Homo sapiens: one gene and its partners. The protein of the gene in region 2 purifies or fractionates together with the protein of the main gene of each other region. This does not show direct contact. Each region holds a gene or a part of one and is shown on either strand. Other genes may lie near its edges. The genes, in order: MELK, AGAP1, RASAL2, KIF13B, TESK2, NAV1 and TANC1.

Region 1 (4,288 bases), on a different chromosome or scaffold from region 2:
GGGAACAAATACATATTTAAAAATATTTATCCATGTGCCACCCAGAATTACCTTGTCTATCTTGTATCACACTATGAGAAGCACTACCTTAAGAAATTTGTATCTCTTCTTTGGGCCATAGGTTCTTATTTTGAAAAGTAAGATAGTTGGATACTTTTCTTCCTAGGCATTTTGTTATTTATACAATGAACTCAAACCTGAAAGATATAGAAACTATGGTTTTGTTTGACAGTGAAGGTACTTACCAGGAAGGGAGGGATTTTTGTGTGTCCAGGACCCACTAAAACAGTGCCTACCACATAGTAAACATTCAAAAGTAGTTGTTGAATGAATGAAGGATAAATATCAATTAGGAATGAAATTATCTCTGAGAATTAGGCTCTCAGTCAATGAGAAAAAATAATATGACATCACTTTTTTAAAGGAATACCTGTTACATTTATTTCCTCATAGAACTGTCATAAAATCAGCTCCTGGAACTCTATAATATTCTTTAAATAATCCAGAAAGAGTTAAGGAAACATATCCAACTAGGTACAAAGCAAACTTTGTATGGTGTTTGTTTATCTTTCCGTGGTATACATTTCAGGACTGTTAATGTCTCTTAAAATAGTGTGGGAAGGGGAAAATAGGCAAAGCTCAAACAGTTAGATGGGTGCTCTTTAATATTTATTTCTTTAAAAGGATTGGTAGGAGAGGAAGATGAAAGTATGAAAAGGAAGCTATGGGTGTGTTTACTAATAACCATAACTTCTCCAAGCTCTCCCAGTGGGCCATTAACTCACTAAGAGTTGACTGTAAATTCCTTTGATATTTTTTAGGAAATAGTTCCATTTGAAACAGTACTATATTGAGGAGTTTTGGAACTCTTGATCTGGTGTGATGGTCTTTGTGTTGATGTAAAAATTTACTTCTCATCTCTTCTTTTTCTTTTCTTAGCTTCACTATAACGTGACTACAACTAGATTAGTGAATCCAGATCAACTGTTGAATGAAATAATGTCTATTCTTCCAAAGAAGCATGTTGACTTTGTACAAAAGGGGTAAGAAGCACATTTACAAGCTGTTGCATTTATTAGTATCTTTTGGACTTTGAGAAAATAGGAGTTGGTTGGGCGCGGTGGCTCACGCCTGTAATCCCAGCACTTTGGGAGGCTGAGGTGGGCAGATCACTTGAGGCCAAGAGTTCAAGTTCAGCCTGGCCAACATGGAGAAGCCCTGTCTCTACTGAAAATACAAACAATTAGCTGGGCATGGTGGCACATGCCTGTAGTTCCAGCTACGTGGGAGGCTGAGGCATGAGAATCACTTGAACCTGGGTGGAGGCTGCAATGAGCTGAGATCACACCACTGCACTCCAGCATAGGTAACAGAGCGAGACTCTGTCTCAAAAAAAAGAGAAAATAGAAGTTGATCTCCTCACCCCTGTGCTTTAGAAAAAATGTATTTCTCCCACCTCATTCCCAAAAGCTTTTGAGGTAGTGTTATTGCTTATAATTTATTCTCTTTTGTTTGGTTCAAGCTATAAAAGTTTTAGAAGCACAGATATTGTCCCACTTTATTTCAAAATAGGAAAATTCAAAATTCTTCTGGCTTTCTTGTAGATCCTCTATTTTCCTTTGATTGTCTGCTTTACAATAATATTTATAAATTATAATCTAAATTTGTGAGACATTTCAAATGAATCAGGGATTTATACAGAATCCTTCTCTTCATGACTGGCTGTTTTACAGGGCTGGGTTTTCAGTGCTTTAGGAAGTTTTTTCACCTTACCTCTCTCCCGCTGTTGAAGGAACTGCCATCAAAGCCTCCTTGGTTATGATCTCCTGGTCTCAATAGCCAGGCCTCTTCTGGTCACCCAAGATGGCCGTATTTCTAAGCATTTCCATTCAATTATTTCCCTTTAAAATTTCTTTATTAAAGCAACCAGAAGAGACATGCATGGATTTAAACATGTAAATAGAATAGTCAATATAGAGTAAGATTTGAAGAAACAATCTTGTGCAGATATAATTTTTAGTTTTTAGTTATCTGTAAATGTTGGCAAGCATTCCTTCTGTGAACCCTGGCATTCCTCTCAGGCTTCATTAGAACACATCTCTCCCACTCTGATCTCTTCTTCATGCTTGGGGCTATGAGCCTCTGGGCATACCTCTGTCACAGGTCTCTCAATGATCTATTATCTAACATGTGACTAAATTGTTCTATGCCTCATCTTCTTGTCAAGAATCTTAACTTCAGGGTGCTCCTTTTGGCATTTTTGATGTTGACTGCTTATTTTTGAGAGATCAAGCCTCTTTCCCAAAACACATGACTAAGTTAGTAAGAAAAAGAATATTTTGGTACATAACAGTATGAAACAGAAAAAAGTACATAACTGAAACAATGTAACTTCTCCACACATCTGTGGAACAGCACTTAATCAGGAACCCTTAAGTATTTAGGGAATTGAAACTTAAAATCAGTCCTATTTATTGAAGATTGGTAAGACAAACAAAACTCTAAAATAGAATGTAAACTAATTAAATATTATTACATGAATTAAATTTATACAGCTTTGCAGGATCATACGTATGTCTTAAGATGTGTTTCAGGCTTCATTTTGACTGGGCCTTTCCATTCTCAGAGTAGATAATGCGGCAGTTCTATCTATAAATGCCGTACGTTTCAGTTATGGGAATATACCATTTCCTTGGGCTTTTTCTTCTGCTTTTCTTTCTGCCATAAAGTGATGTGATGATCGTCATAAGAGGTTATCTCTCATTACTAATTAGAAAAACCTCAAAAACACACGTGCCTTTCTGACAGGTTACTGGCTTCAGCTTTATTTATATGAAAGACAAGTTTCTGACAAGGCTCACACACATGAAATATTATCTTTCTTGCGCTTTCCTTTGTTGTGAATGTTGTGGAAATGCCCAATGTTTGCGGATTACACGTTGAAAGGATTGCATAAAGAATGCCAGATTTCTTGAGCATGAATGGCATGTATAGCTATGAAACAGGGGCTTTTCTTTGGAGCAAGGGAGACTTGTAATAAAGCCTTTTCATGCTTATTCTTAGGATCCTAGTTCAGTTTCTGGGAAAACACCAGTCATACTCTATTACTAAAGCATAGCTAGGTCATTTGGAAACTGTAAACAGTAATACATTGCTTAATATGAAATAATGGTTCATTTCCTCCACTGGCCTCCTAGAGGCTTAGAAAACTCTTATACAGAATATGGTTCTCCTACTAACTAGCTTCTTATCTTGTTTTTCACAGTTATACACTGAAGTGTCAAACACAGTCAGATTTTGGGAAAGTGACAATGCAATTTGAATTAGAAGTGTGCCAGCTTCAAAAACCCGATGTGGTGGGTATCAGGAGGCAGCGGCTTAAGGGCGATGCCTGGGTTTACAAAAGATTAGTGGAAGACATCCTATCTAGCTGCAAGGTATAATTGATGGATTCTTCCATCCTGCCGGATGAGTGTGGGTGTGATACAGCCTACATAAAGACTGTTATGATCGCTTTGATTTTAAAGTTCATTGGAACTACCAACTTGTTTCTAAAGAGCTATCTTAAGACCAATATCTCTTTGTTTTTAAACAAAAGATATTATTTTGTGTATGAATCTAAATCAAGCCCATCTGTCATTATGTTACTGTCTTTTTTAATCATGTGGTTTTGTATATTAATAATTGTTGACTTTCTTAGATTCACTTCCATATGTGAATGTAAGCTCTTAACTATGTCTCTTTGTAATGTGTAATTTCTTTCTGAAATAAAACCATTTGTGAATATAGCAGGCTTCTCTTTTTTGTATTTGATTTTGATCCAAATAAAACCTCAAATGGCTTCCTGACTATTAAGTAGAGACTATTTGGAGTATGTTTTATCTGTTATCAAATATGCCTTGGGCAGAAAAACAGATAAGAATTCATTTGCATAATTTTTTCCTGTCTGATTTAAGTAGGATTTATTGAGATCGTTAACTGTCACAGCTGTGGTTACCAGAGTTAAACAACACATTTAATATGTTGAATAAAAGAGTATTGACTTTAAGTATGTTTGGTCAACAAATGATAAGTATCCGAACTATGAACCCCCCCTGAAATGTTACTTTATGGTAATTTCCCTAAGTCTCAATGTTGGCCCCAAATTTGTATTTTTATTTCATTTTATTGGTCTCCAAAGGCTAGAACTCAAGTTATATTGGTATGGATTTCACCAATTAAACTAGTTGGAGAAAAAATAGCACTCCTTCTGGTCAGTAGTGAAGGGAATGTTTTGTCATTCATTTAT
Region 2 (3,500 bases):
TAGCAATCATATGTTCTTACAGCATCGTTTATGATAGAGAAAAATTGGAAGCAACTTAAATGTCCATCAAAGAGAACTTGATAAGTAGGTCTTCACTAAGTGGAATGCTATGCAGCCATTTAAAATGATGATGTCAGAGAGTATGTGACAGCAGTGAGCAATGAACAAGTTTCGTTAGGCTGGAAAGGGCAGGTTTCTATGCAGCAATATGTATTACGCTGGCTTTTTAAAGTACATATGTGTATGTAGATGTGCTTAAACAACAGGCTAAAAGAACAGACATCAAAATGTTAATAATGCTTAACTATGGATGGCCGTATGATTGTTTATTAATTTTATGTTCTTTTTCCCCTCTCTGTATTTTCTAAACTTGCTTCAATGAGCATGTATGTTTTTAAATCCTTTTTAAAGAAGACCATAGAGCCAGGTGTGGTGGCTCACACCTGTAATCTCAACACTATAGGAGGCTAAGGCAGGAGGATCACTTGAGCCCACGAGTTCAAGGCTGCAGTGAGCTATGATCACACCACTGCACCCCAGCCTCAGCCACAGAGCGAGACACTGGCTCAAAAAATAATAATAATAAATAAATAAATAAAAATAAAGCAAGCCATCAAGTGTAAGGTTAAGAATCAGCACTCCCAGCTATACTCGTGTTTCTCCCTGCCCCCACCCTGGCGAGTGGCTTTGTCACTGTGGCAACCGAGGGTCTTCAGATGACATGTGCATCTCCCAGGGTGACGTGTGGTATGAATGGGGTTTTCTGACAAGGAACCATGAGATATGTCTTACATTGCTGATGAAGCCCTAACCCTGGGCTTATAAACGGATTATTTCTTTCTCATTCTTCTTACCAAGTAGACATGTGGCTACTGCCCAGAAGGTTACCCATTTACCTTCTCCAGGTTACCATGGTCCATGCGTATTCACAGATGATCCAGAACTCTCCTCTTTGCTCATTTCTGGCAGAGTCCGTCTCAGCTGATGAGTTAAAATGTGACATTTCCTCCCTCCCCCCGCCCCATGCATGATGATTTCTTCTTCAGTTATGCTCTTTCCCAAAGACATCAAAACAAGAGTGATTGTTTAGAAATTACCCTCGTCCTACATTTGCTCCCAATCTGTTTGATCTTTCCCTGATGTTATCAGTGATGTGCGTTTCTCCCGGGGTGCTTACGCCTTGTATTTGTGTCTTCCTCCGTGCCCAGTCCCGGCTGACGAGCCAGAGCGAGGCCATGGCCCTGCAGTCGATCCGGAACATGCGCGGGAACTCCCACTGTGTGGACTGCGAGACCCAGAGTAAGTGTGTGCGGTGGTAGCAGGGGCTGGCGCTGTGTAGCTGGAGACCACATGGTCCCACTAGGCCCGGGTTGCAGGGGACTCACATCTGTCCTGTTTGGCAGATAAGAGTTAACTGCTTTTAGGAAATTGAGATATTTTGTTTGGATTTTACCTTAACAGAGTGCCTTCCACACAAGCCTCACCCCTGGCTGCAGGGTGCGTTTCTGTGAGTCTTTCCTTGCCTTAGGCATCCGATGAGCAGCAGTCATACCTGAGGTGCAAAGGATTCAACCCCACACCCACAGCCTGTGCCAAATCTAGGAAGCCCAGGAATTCAAGACGAGCCTGGGCAACACAGGGAGAACCCGTCTCTACAGAAAATTAAAAATTAACTAGGCGTGGCAGCTGGCTTACTTTTTGCTTAATCAGTGATCACTTGTTGATTTTTTTTTTTTTTCATAAAAATAGAATATAATTGGTTCATTCCTGCCTAGAGATTCTTGGGTATTGTTTTTTTAAATTCACAATCATATGTTCTGGGTTTTGCCATCAAATGATGTCTTGTTTTTTTTTGGTCTTAAATCCATTACCCACTAAAGCCTCTGATTGAACTGATAGAAGTTGTAATTACTGCTTTGTGCCATCGAGTACCCCAGTTTTATTTCATGATTTCCGTTGTCTAATCCATACTATTACTTTCCCTTTGAAAAAGTCATTTTGTTGTTCATAATCTTGAGAGTAGGGACTTATTTTCATGGTTGCAGTCCCAGCCCAGAGACAGTATTGGAGACATTCAGTAAATTTCTTCCCTTCAGATTTTTTTTGTTAAGTAGTGTTTTGAAGAGAAGGAAGTTCAGTTCAAACAAGGTAAGAGGTGCTGGTACCAGGCTGGGTGCTGCCCAGGAGTCAAACGTGCATGGCGTGGTGGGTCCTGCCATCCTGAAGCCTGAAATGCACTGGACAAGGCACCAACCTGCTGACCATGGAGCTAAGCGCTGGGGAGAGCCATCGGGGGCATGCGGCGGTCTTGCCACCCATGCAGGAGCTGTCGTGTCAGCAGGGCTCTGGAGATGGGCAGGGTTTGTACAGGGAAGGGGCCGAAGGAATCACTGTGAGCAAAGGGAGTGGCTTGAGGAGAGCTTCTCTGGGTGGTTGTAGGATTAGAGATGCTTTTTGGGCTGGAAAACCAGTAGAAGCTAGTTGGAGTGTGAGTGCCAAGTGAAACTTTTTCCAGCTTTGTTCTTCATTTGTAAGCAGAGAGACATCATTGGAGTTTTAGAGCAGGAAGGAGATGGACCCTGAGCTCCACTTGGGGAGATGGATCTGGCCAGACCATTTTGAACATACTGGAATAGAGGCAAAGCAGGGAGGAGGCCAGCCAGGGTCGGCTTGGCCGGGAAGGGAGACAGGAGCCCAGGACTGCTCCAGACAAAAGGGAAAGGAAGCGCCCCCTCCAAGAGTCCACTCAGCAGCATAGCAGGCAGGGGAGAGATCAAAAGTCTGTCTGCGGCCTCTCTGGAAGCCTGTCCTGCGGGTGAGGGAAGGGGTTCTTCTCCAGGTATCTTGAGGTTCTTCTTTAAAGTACCTCCTTATGTTTGAATGTTTAAGTTTTACTTTCAAATGTGTGGTGAAATGAAGTTCGAAGAGAGAAGCAGTTATTTGAAGTGTGTTTCTATCAAAAAGTTTTAAAAGTAAGAGCTTTTTTAAAAGCACGAATCTGAGAAATATTAGAACATCCATTAAGGAAAATGCCTGCAGTTGTTTCCACCGTGCGTCTGAAGGTCGCTTTAAAAGGAAAGCCATCCGTGGCTTGCGGGGACCATGATACCTGGCAAATCGGAGGTCGCAGGTCCTGTCTGAGATGAGCTTGTGCATGTGAGTGCGGATGGGGGGTGGGAAAGGGAGGCCAGTGCAGGGGAGGTGTGGGCCAGTTTGTTCTGAGCAAGACCACCTGAGCAGATGGACAGGGACAAAGGGAAAAGGCAGAGTTTGACAATTCAGGAGAAAGAGGCGATACCAAGCACGCATTTGCTAAATGTGTGGTCTGTGTCAGCCCGGTGCCAAACCCTCCCATGCGCTGTCTTTTCATTCTGCAACCCTAGTAGTTGGTGCCCCTGTGGGCCCCACTTAAAGGGGAGGAATTGAGGAGCCTGAAGGGTCAAGTCATTTGTCTGAGGTCACAGAAATAGCAAGTCCCAAAGCAGGATTCAAACCCATCT
Region 3 (3,500 bases), on a different chromosome or scaffold from region 2:
TTTGTAGAAGCTAGCAGTATTGAAGGTTTGTACTGGTGAGCTTTTGGTAGGTAAGTGAGGGCTATATTGCAGAGAAATTTAAATCCCAGAACTAAAAAAAAAAAAAAAAAAAGGAGTTTTGGCTTTACCCTTTAGAGAGAATAGAAAGCTATTCTCAAAGCATTAGAATATTAAAGTGATATTAAGAAAGTATGTTATAACATTTATCACTTATAGATAATAAACAAAATTAGTCATTCCCTCCACAAAATAAAAAAAAGTAATAGTTCTGTGTAATGTCAAATCAAAATGATCATATCTCTCTTGAATATGTTCTTTCTCATTTTCTCATCCTCTACTTCAGGTTTGGTAACAAAGAGGAATACATGGCATTCATGAATGATTTTTTAGAACATGAATGGGGTGGAATGAAGCGCTTTCTTTTGGAGATCTCTAATCCAGACACCATCTCAAACACCCCAGGCTTTGATGGTTACATTGATCTGGGCCGAGAGCTTTCAGTTTTGCATTCCTTACTGTGGGAAGTAGTTTCCCAACTTGATAAGGTAAAGTAGGTTGGTGGAAGATAGAGAACTTTAATGTACCTGAATTCTGGAAAGTAACTATAGAGTGATAGCACTCACTCTTTCTGCTAATTGAAAGCAACTGTTTACCCTAGAAATCTGAGAGTAAATGGTCATCATTTCTGAGTAAAATATGAGATCGACAACCATGAAACTCTAGAAAACCATGACATTATTAATATATGTTTTTAATAATTATCTGAATTAATGGAGTATATTTCTCTAAATTTATATATACAGAGTGCATATCTGAAAACTTGACTAGAAACTAATATATTGGTATATACAGCCTTATGCATGTCTAATAGGATAAGATGAAACCTCATATAGTAATTTCTAATAAAAGTATAGATTTAGCTAAGAAAATACTAGGTTTATCATGTTTTAAGTAACTACCCATGAAACAAATTTTTTTACTATACAAGTCATAGAGTTTCATATAATTATTAGTGCTAACAGTCATTGTTTTCTTTCTTTACAGATGTGAATTAAGAATACAGAAAGCAATTATTTTTAATCGTTTGCTAAGAATTTTATTATATACCGTATTAATAAGTAAATATACACCATGCCAATCATTTTCTTCCTTCTGGAATTTAACAAAAAGGAATAGATTTGGTAGTAAAAAATAGTCTAAAAGACGTTGGCTAGGCTTATTACAATAATTATTTATTGATGTTTTTGTTTGCTACAGGCACTTTATAAATATGTGTGGTGGTATGTTAGAATAACTTCAAAAGACAGTCATTTTTCTATGATAATGATCTACTTATTTTCCTCTATTTTCCTATCAATAAAAATGCTATATCAGTAAAATTTGAAGGGGAATAAAACCTATTAACAAAGACCACTTTGCTGAGGAAACATATGTGGTAATGTGTCCTCCAGTGCTTAAAATATTTGTAAAACAATAAACTGTTCCTTATTCTCGAGGACCTTTTCTTCACTTTTAGAAATGCTAGCTAGATTTTTAAGTTGCAGCTATGCCAAAGATAAACCCTTTTCATGTGAATCGTAGCCCAACATTATTGAGCAAGTAAAGGCCTTGGTGGCATCTATCCCTGTTTGAGTAGGGTAGAAGAGTCTGTTGATTGTTGAGAAGGCAAAGACCCAAAGGCAGCTATGCCAAACTGACTGACAGTTGAAGGGGACCCCTAAGACCCCATGAGAATAAGAATTCCCTAAATAAAAAAATGATTGAAATGGATAAAGCAAGTATTAAAGAGTTCGTCTTTGTTGAATAACTGCATCTCAGTGGAATGCAGATTCAGTTTTCCTGTGAAATGGGCCTGGTTTATTCAGGATCAAAGTCTTTTTAACGGGCTTTGCTATGTAAACACACTTTCTCCTTTTTAATCTGTGTTTGGTCCTGGGAACCAGGAATACATCTAGACATATCTCATAGAGGAAGTTTACCTGATTTTGCTGTTAAATTAACAATAAAAATTGTCTTACTGATGGAAACTCAGTTGGCAGTGGGTCAGGGTTCCCAAGATTGACTGGGATAGTGGATGGCAGTATCATCTGTGTGCCCTGCAGTACTCTGGATTCCTGAATGAGCACCTTCTTATATGTTGGCATGCATTTCTTTTCTCACATGATCCCTTTTCTTTGAAAGTTTATCATACTAGTTGATCCTCTGATCTTGAAGTTCTTTTGGTTAGAAGGAATTTGGTTCTGCCTCCACCCTCCCCCACCTTGATCTACTAGCCTCCCAAAGATTTAGTTTGCTTCGCATGCCTATTTTAGTTGGAATGGCATTAGTTTGGTAGTTTTGAGCATGTCTTTTAATTTTTACTTGCATAATCCTGATTTCGATTTCCTTTCTTTCCTCGATGTCTGCCGCACCTTGTTTCGCCTCCTCCATTCATCTCGACGCCATGGTTCTGCTGCTCCATAACAATGCATTATGAACCTGCCACTCCCATATGCAAACACTTACCCTTCCCTCCAACCTACACCCCTCCATCAATGGCCATCGTTGTGCCAAAAACAATCTGTGGTGGATGTCGCAATGCTTATTATCCAATTAGGGTGAAAATTCCTTCCTACAGGCGACCGTGGCAAAATTGGGGCCTCTCCCTCGTGTTCTTGCTGATATTACCAAGTCATTGACTAATCCTACGCCAATACAACAGCAACTGAGACGCTTCACTGAACATAACTCCAGTCCAAATGTCAGTGGAAGCCTCTCCTCTGGGCTGCAGAAAATATTTGAAGACCCCACTGACAGGTATGAAAGAGAGAATTTGACCACTATCTCGGAGAAACATAATGTTTAGATTTAGCAGAAGTATATTCAACCTATTTGTTGAATTTACAAGTTTAAAATCATGAGCAACTGAAGACTCATCTGACCTGAGAGCAGTCCAATTATTTGTCATAATAATGCACAAGATCTGGGATGACTTATTTTCTAGAATGGTAGTATAGAGAGTTACAATATATTCCACAAGCATATTTTTAAAATTTCTGTCTTGCTTAGTGGAAGACTAAAGGCTTTATGAAATTCATGTTTCTGTACGTTATAGCATTCAAAATCTTGGAGAACCTCGGTTAAAACCATTTTATAGCTGGCTATGTCAACTGGACAGGTAGATACAATGTCGATGCTTAGACTGTTTTAGGGATTGGCAAGACTTGTGCCTTTTGCAGGGACCTTTCAGTTGTGTGCTTAGAACTTCTTCTCTTGAAGGTTTAGACAAGTAAGTATGAATTGGAATATTTGGGGAAGGTTTAAAACCTAACTAGGAAATTATTGGAATCCTGGTTAAAACTGAAGACAGTGATGGGTTGGTATCTACAGTGTTATTCTGTACCTTTGGGGAAAAAGTAAAAATGCTGGATTTTATTCTAAGCATTGTAATAATTCCCTAATTAGATAAAATCTGAGTTTCCAAAGAAATGTACGTATCCACATAAGAACCTTCGGAGGAG
Region 4 (3,500 bases), on a different chromosome or scaffold from region 2:
TATGCTTCCAGTTTATCCTGCACATCTTTGAAAATGGTGTCATCTCAGGATAGCAAGATCCTCTTAAAGATAATCATGTCCAACATTGTAGTAAAAGCACAGGTGGGTTTTGTAATTCTGGGAATGTTAATTAACCTCTCTGAGGTTCTGCTACATAGAAATGCTACAATTACTACTTTTTTTGTTTGTTTGTTTGTTTGTTTTGAGACAGTCTCGCTCTGTCGCCCAGGCTAGAGTGCAGTGGTGCGATTTCAGCTCACTGCAACCTCCGCCTTCCAGGTTGAAGCGATTATCCCACCTCAGCCTCCTGAGTAGCTGGGATTACAGGCACTCACCACCACACCCAGCTAGTTTCTGTATTTTTAGTAGAGACAGGGTTTCACCATGTTGGCCAGTCTGGTCTCAAACTCCTGGCCTCAAGTGATCCACCCACCTCGGCCTCCCAAAGTGCTGGGAGTACAGGGGTGAGCCACCACACCTGGCCTACAATTCCTTTTCAAAGTCTGGTTTGAAGAATAAAATAATGCATTAAAAAGCATTGAACTCCATTGCTCGCAAATAGAAAGTTGTCAAAAAGCAGCTATTTTCTTTTTCTTCAGTCAACACTGTTGAAATGAATGACTAATGGATACCATTTTCTAAAGATATCTTTATCTCCTCAGAGCGAAAGCCCCATACAGTTAAGTCATGGACTTGCATGGAGTGGACCAGTTAGTTTCACGCACTTCCCAGGTCACAGGGCACACTGCTCATCTTGGTCGAGTTTTTGTTTTTTTTTTTAAAGAACATGCTCTGCCAAACACAAGGGGAACTTGAGGAGCAAGCATAGAGATCAATACATCCATTTCCACTCAATCAGCACTTCAATCCATCTCCTTAATTAATAGTTTTGTCAGTGGTTTCTTCCATTTTCAGCACTTAAGAAGTGGAAAAGTCGGACAGTTATTGTTTTATGGAGGTGAGAGGGTAAAAGCTAATGCCAATTAAACAACATTGTATTTTATATTATAAATGTATATTTCTTGAAAAGAGGTCTGGCCAGCCAGAGCAACAAAGTGAGACCCTATCTCTACAAAAAATATTGAAATTAGACAGACATGGTTGTGCACACCTATGTACCAACTCCACAGCAGGCTGCAGCAGGAATATCGCTAGAGCCCAGGAGGTTGAGGTTGAGGATGCAGTGAGTGATGATCATGCCACTGCACTCCAGCCTGGGCAACAGAGGGAGACCCTGTCTCAAAAAAAATAAATAAATAAAAACAAAGAAACCAACCAACAAACAAAAAACAGGAGATTTGGGGAAAAGAATTTAAAAGTATACCTTCTTCTCAAAATGCCTCTGGCCCTATGTGCATATATCCAAATTTCAGTCACTGAGTTGACAGTAGAAACAAAACAATGTTGTAATACATGTGTGTCTCATTCACCATTAGCATGTCAAGCAGATGCTGACAAAACAAGTATCTTCTGTTTTAGCAAATACTGCCAGAAATTTCCATCCACGGTCCTCCTTGGCTCCACATCTGTCAGTGATCTCTCTGAGAATACTGAAGAATCACCAATGACCCCAGGGGTCAAAGCCACCTTCTCCTGTCCCTTCATTTCCTAAGGGTCACCTCTATCTTCACTGACTACCAGCATCTTCTAAGCTTCCTCGCACTTGCTGGGTTTTTCCTTTGCCTGTTGATTCACAGCTGCTTAATTTTGACCGACTTCCTTATGCTTCCCATTCACAAGGCTTCATTTTCAGCAAGCGCTTTTAAATCCTGCCCAGCTATGCCAGAAATCGGTCATCTACTGAAGCTTCCAATCTTGCTTTGGGATCTAGCAATCTTTCCCCGTTGTGTTTGTGTCCAAGCCCCATACAAGGTCCCAAGAAGCAAAACAGAGTGCGTGGACCAGCCACCCTAGGTCCGGACTTCTGGCCTGGCTGCTTTCAGGGCTTCCTGCAATCCACCTGACCTTTCCTGTCCCATCATTCTCTAGCTATCCTCACAGAATCTCCATTCTGGCAGGCAGATCTCATCTCTGCTGCCTAAACCTGCTTTACTCATTCTAGTCTCTGTGTCCTCACTCTCAGGCCATACTTCCTCCTCAAAGAATACATGCCATCCCCTCTCCCGTGCTCACATCATAAGCTTCCTCCCTGGAAGTCCAACCAAAGTTCACCCTCCTCAGTGAAGTCTAAACTCCTCTCGATTCCCTTATTTCCCTGTCATTCACCTGGCACTTAGTAACTAGCAGCCTGCTACAGCTGTTTACCTTTTAATCTAATCTTTTCACAGGCATTTTCTTTTCAAGCCCATGACAGTCATTTCCTCACAGGCATGAACCATAAAGCATGCTTTAAGAAACTGAATATGATGGTAACAGGCAACCCTAAGAAAACTTTTAGGAAGTAAAATCCCCCTAACAAGAACAATCAATTTCACTTTTTCATGTTTCTTTCTAGCTCTTGCCCATTCCTGTATACATTTTTACATAGTAATAATAATAGATTTGATCAGTTACACGTACAGCTTTACATTCTTTTTCCACTAACAGAGAAAACGATCTTCCTTGTTAAATGGTTTTGACTGTCATCATTTTAATCGCTGTATAATAGTCCCTCCATTGAGATACTAGATCATGATTACCAAGGCACTGACTCTACATTGACTCTATTAGACATTATTACATACTTCTGTGTCTTTCACCACATCAAGTATTGGAAAATGCCAAGTAAACTCATTTGAAATATCTCCTGAAATAAATTTCTTGTCCATTCTCCCTAACACCTGAAATAATCTATTTCACTGTTTCTATCTTCATTTCTTTCGTTTCCCGGTTCTACCCCCTTAGGCTAGGTAGGTAACAAAGGTATTCCAAACACCTTTTATAGATATTTACTTATTTTGGTAGTTGATCTTATACAGATTTACACACAGGAAATCCCTTGAGGAAAAGCATTAAGATCTCATCCTATCTAATATAAGCCAGATACCTGGCAGGCACTCAATCAATGTTTGCTTACCTATTAAATGTTTTTTAAGCCACCTAAAGTTAGAAAACATCAAATTCCTGGAAAGGAGAATGTTGCTGATCTAACTAATCCCACCAATTACGGCTACAGAACTTTCAGCTCCTGTAATGATTAGACGGGTTAATAATGTATGAATGGGTGTTCTGTGCGGCACATGGAAGCACACAAGAATTATCTGTTTAGCTGTACAGTCTGAACAACAACACTGGAAAACAAACGATATCTGCAAATAGAACTTGAAGATCTTGTGACAAAAATTTACCCTTTTCTCTAGTTGTTTAGCTTTGCATCTCAGATGAAGAAAGGCAAAATAAAGGTTGTAATATTAAAATTATGTAAAATTACATACACGTGTGAGCACAAACTGGCATGGAAATGAAAAGCTGTTAGGATGAAGAAAGTATGTGAACTTTTTTCTTTTTCTTTTTCCTTTTGTTAGTGGAATGTTAAAATAAATGTATGACTAGACAAATAT
Region 5 (3,500 bases), on a different chromosome or scaffold from region 2:
GATGTAGGCTTTCTAAGGACTAACTATAAAATATAATGAATTATGTCCTCTGTGATTAAATGTTAAATCTAACACAGCTTTCTTGGCAAAAGAGAAGGGTGGTATCTCTCAATGAGTTGTGAGAGTAAAGCCTTCATACCTTAGATGTGAGGTCCCGATGAAAAATGCCTTTGAAGTGAAGGTAGCTGAGGCCCACTGCTATGTCATAGGCCAGTTTTACCCTCACAGTCCAAGGCAAATGCAGGTTACTGTCTAGCAACTGTTCCAGGTTCCCGGAGTTGATATACTGCAAAACAGAAGGAAAACCCAGCTACCATTTATCAGAAATATTTAGGCTAGTGGTGAAACCATTAGAGAGTAAACACCTGGAAGAGAGAGACTGTATTTTTTTTTTAAGTTACTGAGGGCTTATTCTGCCTCCAAGCACTATGGTAGGTGCTGCACACAATGACACTTTCCTTTAAGGAGATCACAATCTATTAAGGGACATAGTCAAACAATATCATATAATAAATATTAAAATATAGTTATGTGCAGGTAGGACAACACCATGCAGCAACAAGGATAAAGCTAAACTGTGGAGGCATGTCAGAGGAAATGCAGAGAGGAAATAAGGAGTCAGAAAGGATGACCTGGAGTAGCAGGAAAGTAGCACGAAAGACACAGAGGGAGCAGCATATGCAAAGTTACAGGTTAAGTGCATGATGCATTCAGGAACTTAATTTACTTCGATATGGCCAGAGTGCATTTATAGATGAGTCAGGAAGTGAGGCTGACATGTTTTGCTAAGATATGTGAACTTTATCCTGTCTATAGGAAACAAAAGAAGCATTTTAAGCAGGAGAGCCACATGGTTATATTTGCTTTTTAAAGAAAATATTATTTTAGCCATGGTATGATAGATGGATTAGAGTGAAAAATACAGAGAAAGGGAAATAGGAGATTACTGCAATAATCCTGGTGAGAGCAGGGCATCTGAATCATGGCAATAGTGGAGGCATTGGAACAAGGCAAGATTCAAAATGTATTTAGATGGCAGAATTAAAAAAAAAAAACTTGATAATTGCCTGGATTAGAGAATGAGAGCAATAGGCTATTGGTCCCTGGATGTCATTTTTAAATACCCAGAGAGCAAGGAGAGGAGTAGGTTTTTAGAAGAAGAGGCAATGTTAAAAGAGAGTGAGTTCAGGCCAGGTGTGGTGACTCATGCCTGTAATCCTAGAACTTTGAGAGGTAGAGGATCGCTTGAGCTCAGGAGTTCAGACCGGCCTGAACAGCATAGTGAGAGACTTAGTCTCTACAAAAATAAACAGAATTAGCTGGACGTGATGGTGCACACATGTAGTCCTAGCTACATGGGAAGATCGCCTGAGCCTGGGAGGTTGAGGCTGCAGTGAGCTAAGATCATGCCAATGCACTCCAGCCTGGGTGATAGACAGAGCGAGACCCTGTCTTAAAAAAAAAAAAAAAAAAGATAGTGAGTTCAGCTGGGAGAAGTTAAATTATTAAAGGTACAGGTGCTTATTGGACAACCAAGGTGGAAATGATCTAAATAGAGTCAGTTTGAAGCTTAAGAACAAAGTCTAAGTGAAAGACAATATTTAGGAGGCAAAAACATTGAGCTGAAGCAGTCATGCATTCCAAGGTCATGCATGCCCAGGGTTTAACATGTAAGATGGGAAATCAACAGAATCCCAAGGAACAGGCAAGAATGTCAATAGGAGAACATTCTAAATGTTCAGAAGGACGGCCGGGCGCAATGGCTCATGCCTGTAATCCTAGCACTTTGGGAGGCCGAGGCGGGTGGATCACCTGACATCAGGAGTTCAAGACCAGCCTGGCCAAGATGGTGAAACTCTGTCTCTGTTAAAAATACAAAAAAATTAGCTGAGCATGGTAGCAGGCGTCTGTAATCCCAGCTACTCAAGAGGCTAAGGCAGGAGAATCACTTGAACCCGGGAGGCAGAGGTAGTAGTGAGCTGAGATCGTGCCATTGCACTCCAGCCTGGGCAACAAGAGCTAAACTCCATCTCATAAATAAATAAATAAATAAATAAATAAATAAATAAATAAATAAATGTATGTATGTATGTATGTATGTTCAGAAGGACAATGACATTCTACATGTCAGAAGGAAAGCATTCTACAAAGGAAATGACTGACAGTATCAAAAGCCATGAATGAGGAAGACGAGCTTGAAAGGTATCCACTGAATTTGCAACCAGGAAATCATTGGCAACCTTGGACAGAGCAGTTTCAGTAAAGTGGTTAAGACGAGTAAGACTGAAGTGAACAGAGGAAAGAGTAGCAGATAAGGTTATGGAGAAACTATTTGAAGATAGTCTTGCTGTTCATCATTCCTAAATACCCATGAAGGGCAGCTTTGCTTTTTTAGTAAAAAAAAAAAAAAAGAAAAAAAAGTGAATAAGGCTGGGCACGGTAGGAGGCCAAGGTGGGAGGATCACTTGAGGTCAGGAGTTTGAGACCAGCCTGGGGAAAGTGGCAAAATCCCGTCCCTACAAAAAATACAAAAATTGGCCAGGCACGGTAGCTCCCAGGGGTGGGATCATAGTAGCTAACACCTGTAATCCCAGCACTTTGGGAGGCCAAGGCAGGTGGATTACCTGAGGTCGGGAGTTCGAGACCAGCCTGACCAACATGGAGAAACCCTGTCTCTACTAAAAATACAAAATTAGCCAGGCATGGTGGCGCATGCGTGTAATCCCAGTACTCGAGAGGATGAGGCAGGAGAATCGCTTGAACACGGGAGATGGAGGTTGCAGTAAGCCGAGATTGCACCATTGTACTCCAGCCTGGGCAAGTGACGGAGTGAAACTCCGTCTAAAAAAAAAAAAAAAAAAAAAAAAAGCCTGGGCACAATGGCTCACACCTGTAATCCCAGCACTTTGGGAGGCCAAGGTGGGCAGATCACGAGGTCAGGAGATCGAGACCGTCCTAGCTAACATGCTGAATCCCCGTCTCTACTAAAAATACAAAAAATTAGCCGGGCGTGGTTGCAGGCGCCTGTAGTCCCAGCTACTCGGGAAGTTGAGGCAGGAGAATGGCATGAACCCAGGAGGCGGAGCTTGCAGTGAGCCGAGACTGTACCACTGCACTCCAGCCTGGGCAACAGAGCGAGACTCCATCTCAAAAAAAAAAAAAAATTAGCTGGGTGTGGTGGTGTGTGCCTATAGTCACAGCTACTCACAGGTTGAGGTTGGGATGATCACTTGAACCTCAGGAGGTCAAGGCTGTAGTGAGCCATGATTGTGCCACTAGATTCCAGCCTAGGCAACAGAGAGAGACCCAGTCTCAAAAAAAAGTGAGTAAGTATATGTATTTATAAATAATAATAGCAGCTGTTATTTATATAGTATCTAAATTGTTTCAGGCACTGTTCTGAGAGTTTTGCATATATTATCTCATTTAATCTGCACAATAACCCTATAAGGTAGGTACACTGGTACTTTTTTTCCTTTTTTTTTTCATGTCAGACAACG
Region 6 (3,500 bases), on a different chromosome or scaffold from region 2:
GGCCCTGGGAGAAGCTGGCTGAGTTAATATTGAGGATGGGTGCCGGACTGGGGGTGAAGCAGGAAGGGAGAGGGCCCCCAGATGCTGAGCTTGTAGCATGCAGATCTGGGACCTTTGAAGCATGGGTGGTATCACTGGATGATGGTAGATCCAGACTGTTGGAGTTGACCTTGTCAAGATTGGCTAGTGAGGGTGGTTTGACAAAGCTCTTCGCTGTGGCCCTGAGAGAAGATCAAACGAAATATTTAGAATAATAGAATTACAGAGTGAGAGGCAGATAGGACCTTAAAGAAATCCTATCCAGTCTTGTTTTCTGCCTATTTGCTAAGCACAGAGGCTTATCCTAATGCTGTTGTGAAATACAATGCAAGGAAATCTGATACCCAACTTGGGGCACATTCAGCTTAGATAAGGGGCCAGCATATGCACATGGGAGATACAAGTGAATTTATGCAAATAGGTATATATGTGTAAATAAACAGTAAAAACACCCATACAAGTGCTGAAGACAGGGTAAGCATTGATCAGAGAATAGTACAAATGAGGTAAGTTTTGAAAGAGGGATTCAGTCTTTCAGAACTGTCAGAAACTAGATTCTTTCAGAACCTTGGCATATGGGGGAGAGGTGGGAAAGAGCCATGCAAAGGCCTAGAGACAACGGTGGATAGGCCATGCCTCATCTAGTCCAAGGAGGGCAGAGATATGCGAAAGAATGACAAAGCAAACAGACAAGGAGGCGGCTGCCCACATTGGGTACCTGAGAGGGGTTGGTGGCAGCTCTGCCAGCTTGGTGGCTGTGGGGTGGCTTGCTTGGTTCTTGGGAGTACTTTCTGGGGAGCCAATACTCTTCAAGGAGATGTTGTCTGAGTCCAAGGCCACTGCCTTGGCTTTGGCCTTCTCCTTTTCCCGATCTGTCTGATTGACAGGGGCTGGAGTGGTCCGCCCACTGGCTACCTTGGTAGGCTCCTTCAGTCTGGAAGGCGTAAGGCCTCCCTGCTTGGTGCTGAGGAGACTGGGGTCAATGCTGCTGCTCACAGGGCGAGGTCCACCCCGCCCGCCGGTCACGCTCATAGAACTTGACTTGGCTGGCCGGGGCAGGCTGCGGTACTGGATGTTAGAACGGGCTCCAGGAGCCAGGAATCCTGGCTCTGCACTGTTGGAAACATCTAAGCTAGTCTTGCGCCCATTTACTGGCTTGACAGGGATGCCTGAGGACTTCTGGATCTTGCTGAGAGTGGCTGAACCACCAGTTTGCATGACAGTGGCTGTGCCTGTGGCAGGAGGAGGCTTCTTGTAGCCAAAGGATCCCGAAGTGGAGGGGCGAGCAATGCCCGAGGGGGGCTTCTTAGCATCACTCAGGCGGTCCCGACCAGCATCAGAGGAGGAGCGTTGGAGCCCAGTATTCTTCACTGCAAGCTTACCCTTGTCTGTAGCTTTGCCCTCAGGTTTGCCTGCAAGAGGACGGGAAATGAGAAAAGAGCTGAAACTGACCAGTATCTTAAAAACCCACCCTTTTCTTTCCCTCCATGGGAGAAGGGAACATTGTCCATGTATTGTAGACTTTTAGAGGCCTAAATTTGGGTAAACAGGTACAAGATAAGCTGATAAAGTTTCTTGTCTGAAAGACTCTGGCTGGGAGGGGTGGGGAGGCTAGGAATTTTTTTTGTTTTGCTCCCAGAGTAGAATGGTCCATTTTGATTAAAAAGGCAGAGGCAAACACAAAGATGATCAAGAATATCCATCTAACAACTAGTTGTGGAAGGGAAAAAAAAGGTGGGGAAGCAAATGGAATAGAGTATGACAATATCTCTTAGTAATTAGAGACTACAGGAAAATGTTGATTAAGGCTAAAAGTTACCCAAGGGGCCAACTTTGGGGGCACTATAATTCTCTTGCTGTAGCCATTTTATTTATTGTTTTCTTAGGATCTTCCTGAGATGTCAAGCTGTATCCTATGAAAATAAGTGCCTTGAGTGACTAACTTGGGAGAAAGAAGAAAGCAAGCATTGGAAGTGTTTGGAAGGAGGCCAAACTAGTCTCTAAACATAATATACTTCCTCCTGTACCTCATATTAACTGGGATTTTGGCCCAGCCACTTAATCTCTTTGAGTTTCTATTTCCTCCACATTTGTAAAATGGAAATAATAACACCCATCTTTCCTAACTCACGGGACTGTCCTTAGACCAGATAAGATAATGTCTGTTAAAGCACTATGCAAATGTTTGCTATCATCCTATGGGTTAATGACCACTAAGAAGAGGAGCAACCAAAGAACTAGGTCTTTGCCCTTGTACCTTCCTTTATTCCAGGCTCACCTGCGACTTTGAGGGCACTCTGGGCTGTGTGAGTGATGGGGGAAGTTACAGCCACAGGTGGGGTCTTGCCCTTCTTCAGGGAACCAGGGTGGCCCAGGCTGATGGGCTTTTTCAGTTCTCCACCCTTGGATGAATCATCACAGCTCTCAGGCCGCTCCCTCCGCCACTTAGAAGTCCCAGGTTCCATCTTCAGGCTACCACTGTCGTACTCCAGTTTTTTAGGGGCTTTCTCCTCTGATTCACTAAACCAGCTCAGCCCACTTTCTGCCAGTGAGCGCTTCTCTGAGTCTGTGCGTAGCTAAAGAAAAGAGAAAAAGGCAGAGTGAGATACTTCTATGCAGATGGGAGACTGGATAGCTGACAGGATTGATTTTAGTTAGTACCTGGCGCTGCTCATCTCAGAGTATTAAGTCAAACTGAGGGTTTCTACCTATACCCCTAGGGTTTCCAACAGCAGATGACATATATCTCGGGGTTTCTTTTTCTCCAGTTGGAATAGCTCTTACATGTATCACTCTAGATTGGTGTAGGCACTAAGTATACACAATATGACAACATCTAATGTCTTGGGTGAGTAGCCTTAGCTTTTTTTGGGAGGGGGTGGGGGCAACTCTAAAATGACCTGGCCAAAGGCCTATGAGAACCAATCCCATGGAGTGGGTGTGTACGTGCAACCCCATACACAGATAATGCCATTTGCCCTGTGGTTCATCTTGAGATGGCAGCTTGGGTGTTTGCAAACTCACGTACCACTATTGTTGAGTTCCTGCGAGAAGCAGTGGGAGTACTTGGGAGGGAGTTGAGTGAGGAGCTGGCATTGAATTCTTCTGAACTGAGATTGTCTGAGGCATCGCTGAGTCCACTACTGATGGAGCTGCTTTCATCCCAGCTACAGGACAGGAGAGATGAAGGTCAATCGTTAAAACAGAAGCCCAGGCAAAAAATAAATGTTTCACATTGATGCAAGAATGGCTCTGCACCAGTATATAGGCTAGCCAAAAGGAGAAAACCTGGGGGTTTGTCCTAGGTTTGTCAGCAACTCAAAGTGTGACTTAAACTTCCTTGTAATTTGGTGATGTTCTTTTACAAAAGGAAGAGACTCTGCCTTTATCTGGCAAGAGAAAACGTTGTATCTTCTTAACAGAAAGGTATTTTATAAAGGCAAGGTAATTTTTGGATCAAT
Region 7 (3,500 bases), about 77 Mb from region 2:
GCCAAGATAAAAGACATCCTTCTTTATGCAGCAAACACTGGGGCTGTGTAACCCAATCAGGAAATCTGAGTCTGCCCCTGGGCTGTGTCTCAACGACAGCGCATCTTAACAAAGCTGCCTACTTTGGTATAGCACGTTATTTTATGAATTGCTTTTTTAAAGTAAACTTTTAAATTGAAGTCTAACAATGAACATATGATTTGTGTACAAATGACAATTGCACAGTGTCACTAATTTTCACTAAGTCAAATATACCTATGTAACCAGCACCCAGAAACAAAACATCCTCAGCTCCCAGAAGCCTCATGTGCCCTTCCCATCTCTTCCCCATTCCAAAGATTAAGCACATCTGACACCTAAAAGCAAAGAAGAGTTTTGCCTTTTTAAAAAGACTTCCCACTATTGTTTCTGAAGTATTTAAATGCACGTGCTCATTTAATATAACAATGTAGATAAAGAGGGCAGAATACAATTATTCCCATTTTACATGGATGCTATCTGAAGCTCTGAAAACTTACACAGCTGGGAAGAAGAACGTAAGATTCCTGGTTCCTATGATCTACTGATGGACAAATTGTGCTTACTATGTAAAAAATGACTGAAAAATATACAAACTGAATGTCCAAAAAACACGCATCAAGTTCAACTGAGGTCTAATTTCAGTTTTTATAATGAAAAAATTCCAAATGCTGTTTTTAAATAAATATCATAAAAGGGCAAAAATCAAAACCTAATGTCTAAAAGTCTTCACTGAAAAAGGATAGGTATAGAAGGAGTCAATGGTTAAGACACAATTTCAGGGTTTAAGTGAGGAAGAAGATGGAGGAGAAAAAAAAAATCACCCTACCCCTCGCTGCAAATGTTACCTCATGCTTAAGTTTTGTGAAAAAATAGACCTCTGGGAATAGGCCTTAAAAATGTTTCACCTTCAGCCAGGCACAGTGGCTCATGCCTGTAATCCCAGCACTTTGGGAGGCCAAGGTGGGTGGATCACCTGAGGTCAGGAGTTGGAGACCAGCCTGGCCAACATGGTGAAAATCCGTCTCTACTAAAAATACAAAAATTAGCTGGGCATGGTGGCAGATGCCTGTAATCCCAGCTACTCCGGAGGCCAAGGCAGGAGAATCACTGGAACCAGGGAGGCGGAGGCTGCATTGAGCCGAGATCATGCCACTGCACTCCATCCTGGGTGACAGAGCGAGACTCTATCTCAAAAAAAAAAAAAAAAAAAATCTTTCACCTTCATTTTTCCCTTCAAAAAAACACAAAGCCCCACAGTAAACCCTTGCAAATAACTACCAGCAGGAGTAGCTTTAAACTCTGGCAGGCCTCTTGGCCCCACACACTCCATGACGGTAACCAGGGCTAGATGCCACCATTTGAAAAGTGAACGTGCAATTCGATGCCAACAGGAAACTTACCTGACATCTTGATAAATATACCTGGGGCTAAAAAGGTCAGAGTTTCACCCAAGTCTGGCTCTCTGGACTAGTTTTTCAAATTCTTAACATAGTTTCCAATTCAAGCAGCTGAATGGTTTACAACAGTTTTACGTTATTAACATTTATCACTGTAAAATTGGAATGGGGACTTGGAGAAAGATTTGAGAATTCTTTGTTACCTGAAAATTTGCTCTTACAGTCACAATCAACTTCAACCAGGCAGGAAATTTAGAAATAATTTTGGTAATAAATGAAGAAAGCGTATCTCCATAATCAGGTTTATGAAACTCAGCTTCATTTAAGCCATCTATCAAAATAATGTATTCTTCTTCAGGAATTTTCTGCTCTACAGGATAAAATAATTTTTTCAAATTAAGAAATTATACATTTCTCTAAGACAGCAACACCCAGTGTATTTTAGTGCCCAGTTTAGTGTTAGAAACTAAAAAGGTTTACATATGGCACAAGAAACAGTTTTCACAGAAGCATATTTTCTATTAAATTTATAATGAAAACTGGAGCACAGAGCCAAAAGAAAACCAATTCTCACAAAACAAACATATTGCATGACACATGTTAGCAGAATCTCACTCGTGTATATAACACAGTTAGCTCTTCATAAACCACTGTCATTGGGGTGGGCTACACAAAGATAATGAACACATACAGAGGCCCAATCCGGAAAGGTCACTAGGTCCCCCCATGAGAGCTCCCCAGTGGATTCCAGGGAAGGGAAACTGACCCCCTCGCTGCCCCCAGCCCAGGGCAAACTGCCCTGGCCAAGCCATACAACCAACACAGCGTGAGAGCTCCACGCTACCGACTCCTCCAACAGGGCTCTTCTCTGCGAGCCTGAATCTGGTTTTCTATTTATTAGTGCTGATTTTCTGCCCAGGCAATAGAGAAGAAATGATGACATATCTGTTTTCTATCCCTCTAGCACCTTCCAGCAGAGGTGCCATGTGGGCAAGTAAACAAGCTCAAAAGGTGAGGAGTCCAGGGCAGAGAGGATGGGAAACTGAAGGGCCCATCAGGTCACTGATGTCCATTACCTTGTCGGGGACAAACAATTAAAATGGAAACCTTTAGAAGTCACTTTAAGGTTTCAATTCAACTGAGCAGAGGCCCTGACAAATATATATGCTGGAAAATTCCTCCAAATAATCCACTTATTCCCTCAGATACTTAGGAGTGCAAAATACGCAACAGTCTTCTGTGGTGCAAGTCACCTAAACAGCCCACACTTACAAGCTGACTACTTTGGAACTGCTCAGTCATCACATTCATTCTTATCAGGGTGCTTCTTTTAACACTATACCATAGGGGTGGTGTAGGAGCGACCTCATGGGGCTGGTTCTGAGAAAGAGGAGTGGATGGGCACGGAGGCTTCGACATCCTCTCCATGCTCCACCTCACTTCTACCCCAGCCCGGCTGACCACCTGCCTTCTGGGGACCACCTGTGTCTGCTGTACCACTACTGAGATGGGGCTGTGGGTAGCTGCTGCGAAGTACCATTTCTCAGGTTTGTGAGTGGCTCCAGCACTCCCCTCTTGAAAGCTGCCACCGGGTCCTGCACACAGGATCGGAGGCTCAGCATGCTCTGTAGTTGGGGCTCCTTTATCAGAAGGTCTCTGTAGGCGGCCAGCTGATGGGACCGGCAGAGCAAAGCTGCGATGCTGTGCACAAACTCGGGCACCAGGCAAGTGTACGTGTTGTCAGCCTGGCAGTAGTGGTAGGCCACCACCTAGGGGGAAGCAGAACCGTCAGCATCACCTCACCCTCTTCACACAGCTCCTTCTGCAATCTCAAACAGGAACACAACTCTGCCCATTCGCTGGTAACAAGATACATAGCATCTATTCCCCAAGACTGGGTCATTTGTTAGCATAATTGTTCCATTTATTCCTTCCTTCACTTATGTGGTTTGCAGACCTTTAACTGCATCCACAAAGCCATCTTGATTAGCATAAAAATCAGCACAAGTTATTTTTTTATTTTTGTATTTAATATAAACAAACAGCATTCATAAAACCTAAAACCTACCCTGGCTTACAGCA

The links.
Region 1: the proteins of AGAP1 (region 2) and MELK purify together in Homo sapiens (affinity purification with mass spectrometry, with the first as the bait; one large-scale study listed by BioGRID). This does not show direct contact.
Region 3: the proteins of AGAP1 (region 2) and RASAL2 purify together in Homo sapiens (affinity purification with mass spectrometry, with the first as the bait; one large-scale study listed by BioGRID). This does not show direct contact.
Region 4: the proteins of AGAP1 (region 2) and KIF13B purify together in Homo sapiens (affinity purification with mass spectrometry, with the first as the bait; one large-scale study listed by BioGRID). This does not show direct contact.
Region 5: the proteins of AGAP1 (region 2) and TESK2 purify together in Homo sapiens (affinity purification with mass spectrometry, with the first as the bait; one large-scale study listed by BioGRID). This does not show direct contact.
Region 6: the proteins of AGAP1 (region 2) and NAV1 purify together in Homo sapiens (affinity purification with mass spectrometry, with the first as the bait; one large-scale study listed by BioGRID). This does not show direct contact.
Region 7: the proteins of AGAP1 (region 2) and TANC1 purify together in Homo sapiens (affinity purification with mass spectrometry; one large-scale study listed by BioGRID and IntAct). This does not show direct contact.

The regions. Positions count from the first base shown.
Region 1 is NC_000009.12:36,673,895-36,678,182, forward strand, and holds the end of MELK (maternal embryonic leucine zipper kinase), read left to right. Parts: intron 1-939; coding exon 940-1,043; intron 1,044-3,265; coding exon 3,266-3,443; 3' UTR 3,444-3,788; downstream 3,789-4,288. UniProt on the Homo sapiens protein: Serine/threonine-protein kinase involved in various processes such as cell cycle regulation, self-renewal of stem cells, apoptosis and splicing regulation. Has a broad substrate specificity; phosphorylates BCL2L14, CDC25B, MAP3K5/ASK1 and ZNF622.
Region 2 is NC_000002.12:236,039,543-236,043,042, forward strand, and holds part of AGAP1 (arf-GAP with GTPase, ANK repeat and PH domain-containing protein 1), read left to right. Parts: intron 1-1,208; coding exon 1,209-1,299; intron 1,300-3,500. UniProt on the Homo sapiens protein: GTPase-activating protein for ARF1 and, to a lesser extent, ARF5. Directly and specifically regulates the adapter protein 3 (AP-3)-dependent trafficking of proteins in the endosomal-lysosomal system.
Region 3 is NC_000001.11:178,454,104-178,457,603, forward strand, and holds part of RASAL2 (ras GTPase-activating protein nGAP), read left to right. Parts: intron 1-343; coding exon 344-545; intron 546-2,596; coding exon of another isoform or gene 2,597-2,617; coding exon 2,618-2,796; intron 2,797-3,500. UniProt on the Homo sapiens protein: Inhibitory regulator of the Ras-cyclic AMP pathway.
Region 4 is NC_000008.11:29,256,571-29,260,070, forward strand, and holds part of KIF13B (kinesin-like protein KIF13B), read right to left. Parts: intron 1-3,500. UniProt on the Homo sapiens protein: Involved in reorganization of the cortical cytoskeleton. Regulates axon formation by promoting the formation of extra axons. May be functionally important for the intracellular trafficking of MAGUKs and associated protein complexes.
Region 5 is NC_000001.11:45,355,164-45,358,663, forward strand, and holds part of TESK2 (dual specificity testis-specific protein kinase 2), read right to left. Parts: exon of another isoform or gene 3,489-3,500; intron 287-3,488; coding exon 140-286; intron 1-139. UniProt on the Homo sapiens protein: Dual specificity protein kinase activity catalyzing autophosphorylation and phosphorylation of exogenous substrates on both serine/threonine and tyrosine residues. Phosphorylates cofilin at 'Ser-3'. May play an important role in spermatogenesis.
Region 6 is NC_000001.11:201,780,127-201,783,626, reverse strand, and holds part of NAV1 (neuron navigator 1), read right to left. Parts: intron 3,207-3,500; coding exon 3,068-3,206; intron 2,616-3,067; coding exon 2,318-2,615; intron 1,452-2,317; coding exon 758-1,451; intron 222-757; coding exon 1-221. UniProt on the Homo sapiens protein: May be involved in neuronal migration.
Region 7 is NC_000002.12:159,174,640-159,178,139, reverse strand, and holds part of TANC1 (protein TANC1), read right to left. Parts: intron 3,188-3,500; coding exon 2,956-3,187; intron 1,789-2,955; coding exon 1,622-1,788; intron 1-1,621. UniProt on the Homo sapiens protein: May be a scaffold component in the postsynaptic density.